Linked DNA regions of Homo sapiens: region 1 is linked to region 2. Evidence: fine-mapped expression QTL. A gene starts in region 2. The other region holds a variant in brackets. All regions are shown on one strand. Distances are between the middles of the regions. Region 1 overlaps CACNB2 (calcium voltage-gated channel auxiliary subunit beta 2). Region 2 holds the start of CACNB2 (calcium voltage-gated channel auxiliary subunit beta 2).

Evidence for each region.
Region 1: its variant is fine-mapped to the expression of CACNB2 in skeletal muscle (GTEx, PIP above 0.99).

Annotation. Positions count from the first base shown.
Region 1 is chr10:18,297,555-18,305,890 of GRCh38, reverse strand. The region is part of intron 2 of CACNB2 (calcium voltage-gated channel auxiliary subunit beta 2); the gene reads right to left. Among named protein-coding and RNA genes, the nearest start is that of CACNB2-AS2, 40 kb to the right of the region's middle. The variant C/T (reference allele first, on the strand shown) is at 3,594.
Region 2 is chr10:18,135,918-18,144,253 of GRCh38, reverse strand. It overlaps CACNB2 (calcium voltage-gated channel auxiliary subunit beta 2), which reads right to left and starts at 3,830. Exons shown (of 14, transcript NM_201596.3): 1 at 3,398-3,830. The coding sequence starts at 3,517. RefSeq lists an enhancer at 7,365-8,331.

The DNA.
Region 1 (8,336 bases), 160 kb before region 2:
GCTCAAGCGATCCTCCCACCTCGGCCTCCCAACACTTATCATTTTTATATGCAGCCTCTTAACACGTGAGAATTCCTCAGTTACCCTTCTTCTCCCCCTATACCTGGGGTCACAAATGTCAACCATGAGCATAACCTGGCTTCCAGATGGGTTCTGTTTGACCTACAGAGTGAGGTTGTTAATTTTTACTGAAGCCAACACTTACAAATTAGGAGGTGTTACTTAAAATTGGGACTTCCAGTTTGTCTTGAAAACTAACTCACACCAGCTATGGAATAAGGATAGAAGAAAGTAGAATGTGAAATTGATATAAATGGCTATTACATGGCAAAGTAATAATGAAAGACTGTCTTCTTTCATGACTTAGGAATCAAAAGATACGTTCATTGCAGATTTCGAGGATTTGTGCTGAGATATTATTGAGTTAATTTTCTCTGTATTCTGTTCTCATTTTTGTCATACTTAGCCAAATCTCCACTTCAACAGCCCCAGTTACATGTTTTACCTTATATTATTCTCCAATCTTATTTCAAAAAGGATCTGCTTCAGGGTCCTTCAGTTTACTTTTCCTCTGAATATTGAACTTAACCAATAAAAGCTGCCTTATGAAACAAGTGACATAATAAAACAATAGATAATGTAAGCTTTAAATTCCAAATTCTGTCTCAGCCTCATAGCATTTACTGTCCATGAAGTAGACGACATTTATTTCCTGTAACCCAAAGGCTTTCCTTGTTCTTAATTTTTAAAGTGATGAAGTTCCCACAGGGGAGAATATAAGAAAGGGAATGAGATAAAGGTGGAAACATGGAAGAATTGGAATAAGAAAAATCATTTTCATTCATTCTTCTTTTTACTTCCTTGTATAAGACACAAAAATATATGTTTGGCAGTAATGAGTCCTAAACTTCTATTTCTCAAAGTTGACATTTCAATTTCCATTACATCTTATTCCAAGAATAATGCACACATCTTTCTGCAGAGGAAATAAAAAGTGGGATTGAAATGTACAGCATGACCTGTGAGGAAAGGGACCGCCCCTGTTTTAATTAAGGAAGAGCAGAGAGAGAGATTTCTTCATGCTTATTTAATTATGTTGAAATGTTATCCCACAAACCGTAAGTTTTAAACTCCTAATAGCATCGAGCTAACATTCTTGCAAGATTTACTTATGTTTTGGAAATAGAGCTTTATACAGAATACAGAGAGGATGATCGCCTGTGCAGCGGCAGGCAAAGTCAAGGTTGTGTTCGCTGCCTTTGGTTCCTTGCCTTGGTGTTTCCCTAGCCCACGAAGCCTGGTTGCCAGGCAACCAGGGCAGCTTTGCTGAATATAGATATTAACAGGTTTAGGTTACATTGGGAAAAAAAAATGGAGTGAAAAAGAGCACAGGCTTATCCTTCACCTGGAAATTTGGGGAAACAAACAATGTTTTCAATGCAATATTTGAAACAAAATGTATTTAATACCTTTCTTAAATGTGCTGAATACTTTTTTTAAGCTCCACAACTCTTAGGTGGTATAAACATAGTTCATTTCCTCATTTGAGATAATATACTTGCCCATTGTGTATTGAGAAATAAACTTGTCCACTGCCACCATGACTTGCAATTCTACGTATGAAAACACTGATTAGGCCGGGTGAAGTGGCTCACACCTATAATCCTAGCACTTTGGGAGGCTGAGTCAGGAGGCTCGCTTGAACCCAAGAGTTTGAGACCAGCCTGGGCAACATAATGCAACCCTATCTCTACAAAAGATTAAAACATTAGAAGGATGTGGGGGTGCAAGCTTGTAGTTCTAGCTACTCAGGAGGGTGAGGTAGGAGGATCGATGGAGCCTGGAAGTTTGAGGCTGCAGCGAGCTGTGACTGTGCTACTGCACTCCAGCCTGGATGACAGAGCAAGACTCTGTCTCAACAAGCAATACTAATAAAAAATAAAAACACTGGCGGTTTTTCTAGATCTTGAATAAATTTTAATCTCATATAATGTTGCATAATGTCAAAACTCTTACACAGACATCATTTTCTTTGCAATTCATTGTCTGAGGTGGGTAGGACAGGTTTAACGCTCCCCCACTGAACGGACTGGAAAACAGACTTCATGAAGATAAGTAACTAGTGCCACAACTAGTCAAGGGCAGCGCTGGACACGCACCCCCAAGGACAGCCTGCCTTAACAGGTGTTGCCTCTCAGTATTTTTTCCAGGATAACTGAAAAAGTAGCAGAAAATGAAAACCTTCATATGGGTTGCCTTCATACGGGTTGCACAGCTTCTAAGAATTCAGTACTGGCTCTTATGAAGAGAAGTAAGTGACATCTGAGACACGTGGCCCTGGATTGTGTTTCTTTTTTCTCCCTTTTTTTTAATTTTCTTTTGGTTTGAGATGGGGCCTTGCTCTATCACGCAGGCTGGATTGCAGTGGCGTGATCATGGCTCACTGCAGCCTTCCCAACCTGGGCTCAAGCGAGCCTTCTATCTCAGCCCCCTGAGCGGCTGGGAACAAAGGCGTGCACCACCATACTTGACTAACTTTTAATTATTATTTGCAGAGATGACGTCTTACTATGCTGGCCAGGCTGTTCTTGAACTCCTCAGCTCAAGTGATCCTCGCACCTTGGCCTCCCGAAGTGCTGGGATTACAGGGATGAGTCACCATGCCTGGCCTTCTCCCTTTCTTAAACATTTCTCACATCCTTATCTTTTTGCCAGCACTCCCGCACAGCCATGAGAGAAAAGCAAAAACAAGAATAAACTGTCTATTCCTTCAACTCCAAAGGTGACACCAGTAGCCAACAAGGACATCCTCCACTGTGAGTGCCACCATGAGACTAACGAGTCTAAGGAGACCCCCGTGAAGCTTCAGAGTTTAAAGGACAGCTGATTACAGGTGTGAAACTATAAAAGAGCTTTATGAAGAGAGATGCGATCTCTGTTCAGCACAGATTACACAAAACTGCAATATGCCTGCAAGTCTAGAAAAGTCTACTGCACACCTGTCATTTGCATTTTAGTTTTATTTTTTATTTTTTATTTCCATAGGTTTTAGGGAACAGGTGGTGTTCGGTTACATGAGTAAGTTTCTTTAGTGGTGATGTGTGAGATTTTGGTGCACGCATCACCTGAGCAGTATACACTGAACCCAACTTGTAGTCTTTTATCCCTCACCCCCTTCCCACCCTTTCCCCCTGAGTCCTCAAAGTCCATTATGCCATTCTTATGCCTTTGCATCCTCATAGCTTAGCTGCCACTTACGGTTGAGAACATATGAATATAATGTTTGGTTTCCCATCCCTGAGTTACTTCCCTTAGGATAACAGTATCCAATCCCATCCAGGTTGCTGTAAATGCCATTAATTCATTCCTTTTTATGTCTGAGTAGTATTCCATTGCGTACATATCGCACAGTTTCTCTATCCACTCGTTTATTGATGGGCATTTGGGTTGGTTCCACATTTTTGCAATTGCGAATTCTGCTGCTATAAACGTGCATGCAAGTATATTTTGTATAATGTCATTCACATTTAAATACAGGCGCTATCGCTTCTGCTGCTGCTATGCTGCAGATCTGCAAGCAGCTTGGAAGACTG[C/T]TACAGCAACAAAGCGCCCCCCGACCCACCCCTGACCCCATCAAACTTCCCTGGACTGCTGCTATTCAGGTTCTGGGCATCACTGGGACAATATCTCAAAGTCTGTTCTACAACTTTGACTGCTAAATGAGTGATTTCATTTTGATTTCTTTACGTCAAGTTGGGAGGCCTGATGTGGGCAATTTTGATAAATCAATTACTATGCTATTTCTTCATTCTGCTTGGTAAGACTTTTCCTCCTAGTCTTTCTTAAGGCTATGTTTACTTTTATAGAATGCATAATTTGGGTTATTTTCTTGGGTTCCAGGAAGTGTGACATATTCATCTCCTTCCTATGTATTAGAAACAGGCGGCTGGGCGCGGTGGCTCATGCCTGTAATCCCAGCACCCTGGGGGGCCAAGGTGGGAGGATCACGAGGTCAGGAGATCGAGACCAGCCTGGCCAACATGGTGAAACCCCGTCTCTACTAAAAATACAAAAATTAGCTGTGCGTGGTGGCAGATGCCTGTAATCCCAGCTACTCGGGAGGCTGAGGCAGGAGAATCATTGGAACCCAGAAGGCGGAGGTTGCAGTGAGCTGAGATTGTGCCACTGCACTCCAGCCTGGGTGACAGAGCAAGACTCCATCTCAAAAAAGGAAAAAAAAAAAAAAGAGAGAAAGGCTTAGTGGATTTACCTGAACAGCTTGTTTCGTTTGTTTTTGCGACAGGATCTCGCTCTGTTACCCAGGCTGGAGTGCAGTGTCATAATCATACCTCACTGCAGCCTCAAACTCCTGGGCTCAAATGATCCTCCCACCTCAGCCTCCTGAGTAGCTGGGACTGCAGGCATGTGCCACCATGTCCCGCTAATTTTTGTGTTTTTTTGTAGAGCGGGGTCTTGCTATGTGGCCCAGGCTGGTTTCAAACTCCTGGCCTCAAGCAATCTTCCCACCTCAGCCTCCTAAAGTGCTGGGATTACTGTGGAGCTTGTTTATCAAGGCAGAAAAGATGCCAGAACCATGTCATTCACCTGTTGGGGCTTTCCTTCGTGCTATCAGAGAGCGCAAAGTCAGCTCACGTCACTCCCCTGGTTTGACTTGGGAAGTTAATAACAACGATAAATGTAAAAGTTCAGAAACAGCAAATGGTGTCAGGATTAAAATCACCAAACTTCTGTGGTGCCAGGAACACTGCTACGTTTGCACTTCCGAACACGAGTCCCCTTTTTGAAAAGGAGTGGTGGTTTTCTCTCTACCTTGAGAGTCTCCATCTCACTTTCACTTTTGGGTAACATGCAAGTTAAAATAGCGTTCTTTCCTCACTCATTTTCTTGGGAACTGACACTAGTCCTTAGGAAATCCTATCTTTCTTTTTTCCCCAGAGTACTCTGAATATTCTGTTACTTTTTTTCCCAGAAGTCAATGCATCATTGTTGATTTGGATTGCGCTTTTTATTTTTATTTTTTTGAGATGGAATCTCGCTCTGTTACCCAGGCTGGAGTGCAGTGGCACGATCTCAGTTCACTGCAATCTCTGCCTCCCGGGTTCAAGCAATTCTCATACCTCAGCCTCCCGAGTAGCTGGGATTACAGGTGCCCACCACCATGCACGGCTAATTTTTGTATTTTTAGTAGAGATGGGGTTTCACTATCCTGGCCAGGCTGGTCTTGAACTCCTGACCTCGTGATTCACCCGTCAGATTGCATTTTTTAAAGGTGTTAATTGCCAAAAGGCATAACAAACACCTAGAGTTTTGAAATACGTTGTCATTGCTGTAATAGGTTCTGTTAGTTTTAGTAACATAAACACAAATGTATTTTAGACAAGGTGATAGTATTTCCAATGATCTCTTTATTTCACATCACTTTTGCTGATAAGACTTACTTTTTATCTTGGCTTAGTAGAAGTAGCAGCAATGAAATTTCAGGAGTGTAGGAGTCAACTTGTTACCCAAGGCACAGCAACAGACATACAGAGATATTAATACACAACACCGCTGGGCGTGGTGGCTCACGCCTATAATCCCAGCAGTTTGGGAGGCCGAGGTGGGCAGATCACCTGAGGTCAGGAGTTTGAGACCAGCCTGACCAATAGAGTGAAACCTCATCTCTACTAAAAATACAAAAATTAGCCAGGCATGGTGATGCACGCCTATAATCCCAGCTACTTGGGAGGTTGAGACAGGACAATCACTTGAACCCGGGAGGTGGAGGTTGCAGTGAGCCGAGATAGTGCCATTGCACTCCAGCCTGGGGAAGAAGAGTGAAACTCCGTCTCAAAATAAAAAAAAAAAAAGAAATGCAACATGCATTCACTGGGTAGAGGCTCTACCTATGAAAGTGGTGGAGAACAGGGTCGGAAATTTAGATTGAGACTGACTATAGATGTTCCTGAAGGCCAGACTAAGAAATCTAGATTGGCATCAGAGGTGATTTTAAGTAGCATGGTCCAGCATAATCCCAGCTGCTCTTTCTCGTGACATCTCTTATCATCAATATACATATTCTTTGCATTCTTATGATTCATTCTCACAACCATCAGCAACATGAGTTATAATGATCTCCATTTTGCAGGTGAAGAAAGTTTTTTTTTATTTTTATTTTTTGAGACAGGGTCTGACTCTGTCACCCAGTCTGGAGTGCAGTGGTGCGATCACTGCTTACTGCAGCCTCAACCTCCCAGGCTCAATTGATCCTCCCACCTCAGCCTCCTGAGAAGCTGGGAGTAAAGGTATATGCCACCATGCCTGGCTAATTTTTGTATTTTTTGTGGAGATGGGGTTTCACCATGTTGCCCAGGCTGGGAAAGTGACCTTCAAAGAGACTAATTAGTATATCCAAAGTCACAAAACTGATGCCTAAAGCCAGAGTAGGCCAGAGGTGCAGCCACGCTCCCGCTCCCCTTCTCCACTGAATTTCTGAGTAACCACAGTGGAGCTTTTCCTTGGGAAAACTCACACTTTCCCAGGCCCTACTTCTTCCTACTCCTTCCCACCATGATCATCCACCCGTACTCTGTTATGACAATTAGAGTGAGCATGCCATGTATTGTCCAATCCAGAACACTTCTGAGAAAGAAAGAGAACTATTAAGAATTGTGGGCAAGAGGCATTATATGCGACTTCTGGTGCTCCTAGTTTTAATGAATTCTTGCAAAAGGGTTAATATTTACTTGGTAACTTTTTTTTTCTTTTTTTATTTTATTTTTTTCTTTTTATTTTTTCTTTTATTTTTTATTTTTTTTTTTTTAGTATACTTTAAGTTTTAGGGTACATGTGCACAACGTGCAGGTTTGTTACATGTGTATACATGTGCCATGTTGGTGTGCTGCACTCATTATTTACTTGGTAACTTGATTTGAAGCCTCTCACAGTGCAATCTCTCCAACCTTTTCTCCAAAGGCACTATCCCTGAGCTCGTCTCCATCTAAGAGCTCAAAGGTGTGCCCACACAGCCCATACAGCAGTTTTTGCAGAGTGGAAGAAACCCGCCATTCTTATTACCTCTGCTTTACCTCTTACCTTTAAATGAGGGATTATCCATCTGCCCCTCTCACAGTGCAGTTGAACTACAAGAAGGTGGCATGTTTTCTCTGAAAGGTCCGGTGACCTGCTGGTCAAGACATCTAATGTCCACCAGGGCTGCAACTCACAGCCAGCCTGCACTAAGGCTGGAGTAGTGGAGACAAAATCCCCAAACCGGATATAGACCCAGATCTCTTGGAACTGGCTATGAGTTGGTAACACATTGCACATTGTATCACCTCTTGATTTTAGGGAATGATTCACAACTGGTTCTCCCATTCCTGGGCCCTTACGGCCTCACCTGTGGCATTTAAAATGATCTATGACATAGATCAACATTTTCTCCTAGAAATTTCACACTGTACATTCTCTTCATTGTTTAGTCTGGATATAGTGATCTCAAGGTTAGGTTTTTTTTTTTTTGAGACAGAGTTTCGCTCTTTCGCCCAGGCTGGAGTGAAATGGCGTAATCTCGGCTCACTGCAACCTCCGCCCCACCGGATTCAGGTGATTCTCCTGCCTCAGCCTCCCGAGTGGCTGGAGTTACAGGCGCCCACCACCATGCCCAGCTAATTTTGGTATTTTTAGTAGAGATGGGGTTTTGCCACATTGGCCAGGCTGGTCTTGAACTCCTGACCTCAGGTGATCCACCAATCTCAGCCTTCCAAAGTGCTAGGATTACAGGCGTGAGCCAGTACGCCCAGCCTCAAGGTTAGGTTTTAAATGATATTTTTCCTGCACTGTCTCGAGTTATCTCTTTTTACCTTCACCCACATAGAAAAAGCAAAAGTTCAGCAAGACACTTAGTAACTTGGGGGGCATTATTTGATTCTCCTTCCCTTTCTTTATCCACATTCTTCGGCCTTCACTCCATGATCGTCAGACTCAGAAATACCTGGGCTAGATGCCCAACCCAGGAGGAAGCACATTTGCGCTGCAGGGTGAAGCACTTCTGTGGAGGGATAGTGCACTCCAATGCACTTTAATCCCTCCCTCCACATAAGAACTAGAGTTGTTATCACAGCAAAACGGAAGAGAGATGTTCCACCAGCTGAAAGCTCATCTCACCTAAAATCTGGGCTCAAACCCAAGGGGAAGAAGGTAGAGAGCAGGGAGTGGAGCAGCCCTGGGCTCAGGTTGGTTCTGAATCCCTCTCCTGTCTTCTCCGTGGAGGAATTCAGTCGGCCTGGAAATGTTTAATTATCTATGGATGGTGAGAAACTTTTCTTTTTTTAAAG
Region 2 (8,336 bases):
ACAAAAAAATTAGCTGAGCATGGTGGCGGGCGCCTGTAGTCCTAGCTACTGAGGAGGCTGAGGCAGGAAAATTGCTTGAAACCAGGAGGTGGAGGTTGCAGTGAGCTGAGATAATGCCACTGCACTCCAGCCTGGGTGACAGGGTGAGACTCCGTTTCAAAACACAAAACAGAACAAAAACAAAAACAAAACAAAACAAAAACCAGGGCTTTGAGAAATGTATCATTTTGTTTATGGCAATGTACTGGGGCAAAGGGACCGGAATGTATCAGGATGCTCCCTCTCTCTAGACAGAATGATTGATACAGAAAAGGAAAATGGCAGAGTTTGCAAATCTACATCTTCTGCTTTCTTCATACAAATATAATACTATAATCCAGAGGTGAGGTAGAATGATTCCTAAAACCAATCATTGCTTTAGAGGTTCCATTTGTAAATAGAAACTCCATTTCTAGGTAGAACTGCCCAATAATTCTGAGTAGAATTACTCGGTGCCACATACAAGGAGGATGCTCTAGAGCCAGCCTCCTTTCTCAGGCAGTTTTTACTGCTGGTCTGTTCTGCCCAAACAGAGAGATGGAAGAGATGGCTTTCCCAAGCCTCACACAATCCTATGATGCCATGATTTATCAGATATAAAATAAACAAGGTAATGTTTCCCTCAAATAATGGGTGTGAGATGAACGCAATTCAAGTCAAATTGCTTTCATTTTTGGAAGGCAGAGAAAGCAAGGAGATGAATGTTGATGCAGTTGAATATTTATATCTCTTAAACTTGCTTTTAAAATCCATTCTGCCCTTTCTCTTCTCTCTCCTTTATCTATGCAATCACTTGCTAATTCCTGTGAATTGAACTTTGAAATGTTTGATACATAGAACTGTCATATCCATTATCTTTTCATCTCTTTTTCGCTTAGGCCTTATTACCTCGGCCCAAACTGTTACATCTGTCTGCTGCCTGGCAGCTTCACCTCTGGACTCCTAAGACTTGAAACTATCTTACAGAACATTTCCAAGTGAATATTCCCAAATGAGCTGCTATGTGGGTCCTCTTTTGAACTCCTTCCACAGTTCCCTGTCGCTCAATACACTAAAGATTCCAAGTCCCCAAGATGTAGTCTCAAATTGCTTTGTCAGTTTTACGCCTGTGTCCAATCTTGACCTTACCATGCTCTTTTTGAACTAGAAACGATAAATTATCCTGTAAGACTTCTTACTTCTGGGACTCTGTTTCATGTACGACTGCTTACCAACTCTCTCAAAAATATCTGGTGTAATCTGACCCATCCTTCAATTCTCTTTGCAAATGCCACCTCATCAATGAAGTCCTTACAGATTCCTCCAAATAGCGTGTTTATTATCCTTATTCCTTTGAAGCCATTTACTAGTCAGAACTTCTCTTCCAGCCCCTATACATATATCCTAATTGCTGCTACTGGAATATAAATTCTTTGAAGGCAGAAATTGTGTCTTTTCACATCAGAATCATTTCCACATTGCTGCTGTACAATAACTTGACTTACATTTAATCATTGTACATAAATCACAAAGTAAATTAGTATCTCTTATCTGAATGCAGTTATGTGAGCCCTGACTTTGATGTCCAGGAATTTAGGAACTCTATTTTTATCATAAGAATAAAAACTTTTCTAAAATATCCCTCAAGGAAGATCAAAGGCAAATGAGGGTCTAAATGTCCTTTCCTTTGATGGAGGACTCGAATACTGATAGTATTCAAGACCTTCATCCTAGAATAACCGAGGTCTCCGGGTACATTTTTCATTCTGTCTAACCTGGCAAGCATCTAGATAAAAATCAGGAGTCTAGAACAAATGCAAACTCTATTGGTTAAAATTCAGATCCTCTGGCAGAGGCCAGATGGGAATGTAGCTGGTTCATTACATGTCCCTACTCGGCTTGTGAAGCAAACAGCCCAGGGTGGACCAAAATCTAGCTGTTTTACCACTACAAAAGAAATAGATTTCTGATTACACAAGTCCTTGGTGTCCACATTCTTCCCCTTCTCAAGTCAAAGTGAATTATGTGTTTTAAGTTAGCACATTAATTTCCCAATGGTAAAAGAAAGTTCAATAAAGCTAGACTACTATGCCACTTGGAACTGCCATGATTACAATATCAAAATATCTAGAGCACTCATGTTCCACCTATCAAAACAACAGCAAGAAAACATTTGCCACCTTTATTAGCTTGTCACACTCCTGCCCCCACTACTACAGCAAATGATACTCTAACATGCTCTCTAGTGTGTGTATGTGTGTCTACGTATTAATATATAAGTATATATACACACACATATATATCTTACCGCAAATTAAAATCTGGCAAATGTAGGCTTGAAATCAACAAGCCAACACAGTTAAGCAAACAGACATTTCTCCAGAATGCTGCCTGAAATGTAACCAAGACCTCTTCACATCACTGGCCAGCCAACAGCCAGCCCGCAGCTAGGAGTCTGAAGTCATTTCCCTGCCGGGAGAAAAGTTGAGCGACTCCTCATCGCTGAGACCTGGAGGTGTCTGTAACCCAAACTGTACCTGCTGAAGCCTTACGTAAAAACGTAAAAACCACCTTGTCATTGCCCAGCGCCTACAACTGACATCTCCAATTTCACAACAACCTGCAGCGAAGCTGACTTTTTCCAGAAACCGCAAACACTCAACGGAGAGAAAGGGGATCCTGGAGATCCCTGAAATGGCTAACATTTCAGGGGAGACGGAAAAATAAAAACTTTCTTGTCCCCAGCTCACTCGCTTCTTAAGGGAAAGGCATGAGGTGGGACAGGCAAACCTTGGCAAGTGCCCGAGGGGACTGGAGAGCTGTCAGCCCCAGGTGCGCAGCGTGGTCCGGGCAGCTCTGGGGGGATCCGGCAGGGCACCCCCATATTCGCTCCCCTCCTGCCCACCTGCACCCCATCATCCTCACACCCACGCCCACCCCGGCTCGGAGCGTGGCCAGGAGAGTCGGCATCGTAGAAAGCGCTGCGGGAAGCGGGCCCCCTCCCGCCCACCCGGACTCACGATCTTCAGCAGGTCCAGTCCACTCCCCTGATTCATGTCTCTCCATGTGCCTCTCCCGGGAAGGGGCGAGGAGGGCCAGCTGGAGCAACCCGGGAGAAGTCTGGGAGGACTGGCAGGTCTCCCCCGCCCTTCCCCACTGGCTTTTCGGAAGCAGAGAAAAATGGAAGCCGAGGCAGAGCCAGGAAAAGGCGCAAAGGGGCAGGGTCCCCGGCGCCAGGAGAGGAGCAGAGGGTGGGCAGGCGACGAGGGGAGGAGGTGCGAGGCTAGAGATCCCTGCAGTGGAGGCGCCGGGAGAACCCGAGGTCGGTGCCCTGCCCGGCGGCTCACAAAGGAAGGAGAAGGCGCCGCGCTCTCGCTACCTGTGCGGCGGCTCCGAGCGCCCCCGCGGGAGCCACGTTCTCTAGCAGTTCCATCTGGATCTCCTGCGCCACCGCCGCCGCCGCTGTGGGAGGCGACTTGGACATGTCCCTTTGGACCATTGGCGAAAAGTCGGCTCGGAGCGAAGCAGCCAGCCCCCGGCGGCGGGTCCCCTCCTCCTCGCCCCCGCCTCCCCGCGCTCTGATCGGCTCTGGGGGCCGCCCAGGGCTCAGGCCCGGCCGTTCTCGGCGCAGCGCCCCGCAGCGCCCCGGGACTCGGCGCCCTGCTGCCAGGCGCTCAGTGCGCGGGACGGGGCCGGGGCATCGGGCGAAGCGAGCCGCTCGGGAGGCGGGACGCGGGGGCGCGGCTGCGGTGCCTGGGAGAGGGGAGCCCTCAGCGGGGCAGCCGGGGCCGGGAGAGCGGGCGCAGCGCGGCGGGGATCGGAGCCGCGGGCGCCGGGAAAGGTCCTCGCCAGGAGGGGAGGGAACTCCGGGAGCGCGAGCCAGGGGGAGGCGCGTCGGAAAGCGAGAGTGACAAGCAGCCTACAAGCCGAAAAGTTCCTCGCGGGAGGCGCGCGCCGCGTGGGCTCCGACTCAGCCGCTGCGCGTCGCCGTGGCACACAGGCTGAAAAGTTTGCGAAGCCACAGAAGCCAGGCCCGGCGCTCAGGGGGCCTTGATCCTGTTCCCATGGCCCCAGACCACCCCTCAGGAACCCTTAGAGCAGATCTCTTAACTTTGGAGGGGAAGGACGACGGAGGCTGGGTTCCTACACTGAAAGTTTTAAATTTGTAAAGCCTGCTGGCAGCCCGGGAGAGCAAATGTCTGCAAAGAACATCTTCTGGGCAGCTGAAAGCCCTTGCTAATGTCAGTAATAAGGATCCAGAGAAAGAAATGGCATTGATAAAGATCATCAGGTGATCCCACCTGAATCTGCAGCTGGCCTCGTCAACTAGGTGGGAATCCACCCAACCTGAGACCGAATGTTTTGCTTTATGACTGCTGTCTTCATCTTTGCCAAATTAAATTAGCACTTCTTTCCAAACATAATTGAAGTTTGTTGTTGTTGTTGCTTGTTGTTGTTTTAGACGGAGTCTCACTCTGTCGCCCAGGCTGGAGTGCAATGGCGCGATCTCAGCTCACTGCAACCTCCGCCTCCTGGGTTCAAGCGATTCTCTAGCCTCAGCCTCACGAATAGCTGGGATTACAGCCACAGGCCACCAAGCCCAGATAATTTTTGTGTTTTTAGTGCAGACGGGGTTTCACCATGTTGCCCGGGCTGGTCTTGAACTCCTGACCTCAAGTAATCCACCGGCCTCGGCCTCCCAAAGTGCTGGGATCACAGGGGTGGGACACCACGCCAGGCCAGGGTTGAGGTTTTTCTATAGGGGTGAAAAGTCTTAGTGTCACATTTTTGACAAAACAAGCACTTCCTTAAGATCCAGAATTCTTGATAACAGGATAGTGACTATGGTGAGGGTGTTTCACTTACAACATTCCGTTCAGATAGTCCCAAGGAGCCACATTTTTACATGATTGAGTGCAACTTATTTCAACAAATTTTACTACAGTGGAAACTTCTGTAATGAGTTTTCCAGGCATTTTTTTTTTTTTTTTTTTGAGACAGAATTTCACTCTTGTCACCCAGGCAGGAATACAGTGGCACGATCTTGGCTCACTGCAACCTTCGCCTCCTGGGTTCAATCCATTCTCCTGCCTCAGCCTCCCGAGTAGCTGGGATTACAGGTGCACGCCACCACAGCCGGCTAATTTTTTTGTATTTTTAGTAGAGATGGGGTTTCACCACGTTGCCCAGGCTGGTCTCGAACTCCTGACCTCAGGTGATCTGCCCGCCTCTGCCTCCCAAAGTGCTGGGATTACAGATTTGAGCCACTGCATCCAGCCTAATTTTTGTATTTTTTAGTAGAGACAGGGTTTCGCCATGTTGGCCAGGCTGGTCGCAAACTCCTGACCTCATGATCCGCCCACCTTGGCCTCCCAAAGTGCTGGGATTACAGGTGTGAGCCACCGTGCCCATCCAGCTCCAGAAACCTATTTATATGTTATTTTGTAACAACAAACTGAAAGTTTGGTATATTGAAATACACATGCAAAAATTTACTATAATAGGCTTCAACTGCCTTCTATAGTTTACTATGATATATTAAATTACATGAGATACAGTACTTTTCTCCTCAAAGATAAGCATAGACATTTTAAACCTATCATCTCCACCATAGCACTGATTTGCGCCAGGCTTAAAGAATGGGTCTTGATACAGTTAAAGATTTAGCCATAAAGCATCATTGATTTTCCTAAACTTTGGTATTAAAAATGCCACTTTTATGGGCTACGGACACAAATAGAAAATTCTCAAAAGAAGATATACAAATGGCCAACAAACATATGAGAAAATGCTCAACATCAATAATGATCAGGGAAATGCAACTCAAAACCACAAAGTGATACCACCTTACCCCTGTAAGAATGACCATAATCAAAGAATCAAAAAACAGATGTTGGCATGGATGCAGTGATCAGGGAACACTTCTGCACTGCTGGTGGGAATGTAAACTAGTACAGCCACTATGGAAAACAGTGTGGAGATTCCTTAAAGGACTAAAAGTAGAACTACCATTTGATGTAGCAATGCCACTACTGGGTATCTACCCAGAGGAAAAGAAGTCATGATTCAAAAAATATACTTGCACATGCATGTTTACAGCAGCACAATTCACAGTAGCAAAATTGTGGAACCAACCCAAATGCCCATCAATCAACGAGGTGATAAAGAAACTCTGATATATATGATGATGGGATACTACTCAGCCATGAAAAGAAATAAATTAACAGCATTTGCAATGACCTGGATGAGATTAGAGACTATTATTCTAAGTGAAGTAACTCAGGAATGGAAAATCGAACATCATATGTTCTCACTGACATGTGGGAGCTAAGCTATGAGGATGCAAAGGCATAAGAATGATACAATGGACTTTGGTGACTTGGGGGGAAGTGTGGGAGGGGGCACGGGATAAAAGACAACAAATATGGTGCAAGGTATACTGCTAGGTTGATGGGTGTACCAGGTTCTCACAAATCTCCACTAAAGAACTTACTCATGTAACCGAATACCACCTGTACCCCAATAACTTATGGAAAAATAAAATTAAAAAAATTAAAATGCCACTTTTATTTAAATTTTGCTGAATGTTAAACAGCAGCACTTAAATATTGGTTTGTAATAATTTCTAAAATGGGAACATTTTGAACAGCAACAATCAGCCATGCTTTTATATGTATGCCTGTATGTATGTGTGTGTGAAAATGGAAAAGAAATTGTGTTTAAAGTTTTCGACTTATAGTCTACTTTTGCCCCATGCTCTGTTGATAATATCACTGTTTTAGGCCTACTCATTTAATCAAACTGTGAAGTTTTCTTGAGCATGTGTTTAAATCTTAGGGAAAACATTAAATCCATTTCAGACTGTAAACTCTGTGTGGACAGGAACCACACTTATTCTCTAGGACACATTCAGAATCTGGCAAGTTGCCCTCTGAGTTCTTTCAATAGTCATCCAATAAAGTATGAATCAAGCTTCTATTTTGTGCCACCTGATGAGCACAGCCAACAAAGACCAGGTTACCAGCTCCATGGGGCTTACAGTCTTGCTAGTTAGCACTTAAAAGCCAATTAATAAATGAAGGAAAGAAGGGAGGGAGGGAGGGAGGAAGGAAGGAAGGAAGGAAGGAAGGAAGGAAGGAAGGAAGGAAGGAGAAAACAAAAGAAGAAACATTATTTAAAAAAAAACACCAGGTTTGGTGAAACTGAGTGTTTTCTCATGATGTCTGTCCAGTTTCTTATAGCATGCTTATTTGTGCATTCGCTTTCAATTAGGACCATTTGGGAAGTAGAATTTCATCTTTCATCAGATGTTTAAAGAGACCGCAAAAAAATCAAAACCTTGAAAATAATTTTAATAACGCTTATAACCAGAGGGCAAGTAAAGTTTGAATTAAATGTTCAAATGTAATACAATATATTCATTTCATATAATTCATAATATGAACTCCCTGTTTTTTTATGTTTCTCCCTACCACTAGATAGGGTTCCTTGAGGGCAGTGATGGCGTCTTTTTCATCTTAGTATCCCCAGCACCACCCAGCATGGTGTCTGCCACTTAGTTAGAACGTGAAAACATTTGTTGTCTAAATGAATGCATGAATGTTGAATGACTTCTTGCGTCTTAAAACACAGCATACAACTTTGCCAGTTTTAACGTACAATGACAACATTTACCTAAGCCTGACTCCCATGAGAACATTATACTACTTCTTCCTTTATAACTCAAACTAGTTTAATTAGCATGCATTGAACACTAATCCAATACAATGTACCCATTCAGACTCTTGTCTGGCTTGTAAAAGATTTCAAACACAGAGTAACAAAATGTTACTCCTGAAAAAGGGAGCAAAATCAGAATAAACAGAATAAAAAGACTTGGAAAATGTATAGATGCCTTCAATCACGGTTGATCTTGTTTTTAAGATTCTTTGACTTGCGCAATATTTAAAAGCCACAGAGGAAAGCAAAAATTTGGTAAGTAAAGCCTAATTCTTTTCATGTTAAAAGTTAAGCAGATGCAAGAGACTCCAGCAATAATGGATGTGCCATCGACGCATTCAAATGCAGATGACTAATTTATTCAAGCTGTATGTTAGCTTCCTTGTGCTCATTAGTTGTTGTAATGGACAGACATATTCTGGGAATTACTAATGCTCTGAAATAGGAACAGGGGCTGGTAAGAGACACTGGCTAATGAAGCCAGACGTTTTAAAAGATTATTTTTTCTGTAAGTGGAAGAAACAGTGATTACAAGTGCTTTATTCTTCCTCTCCTGCTTGCAGATTTGTGACTACATTTAACACCTTAAAGAAAGAGCT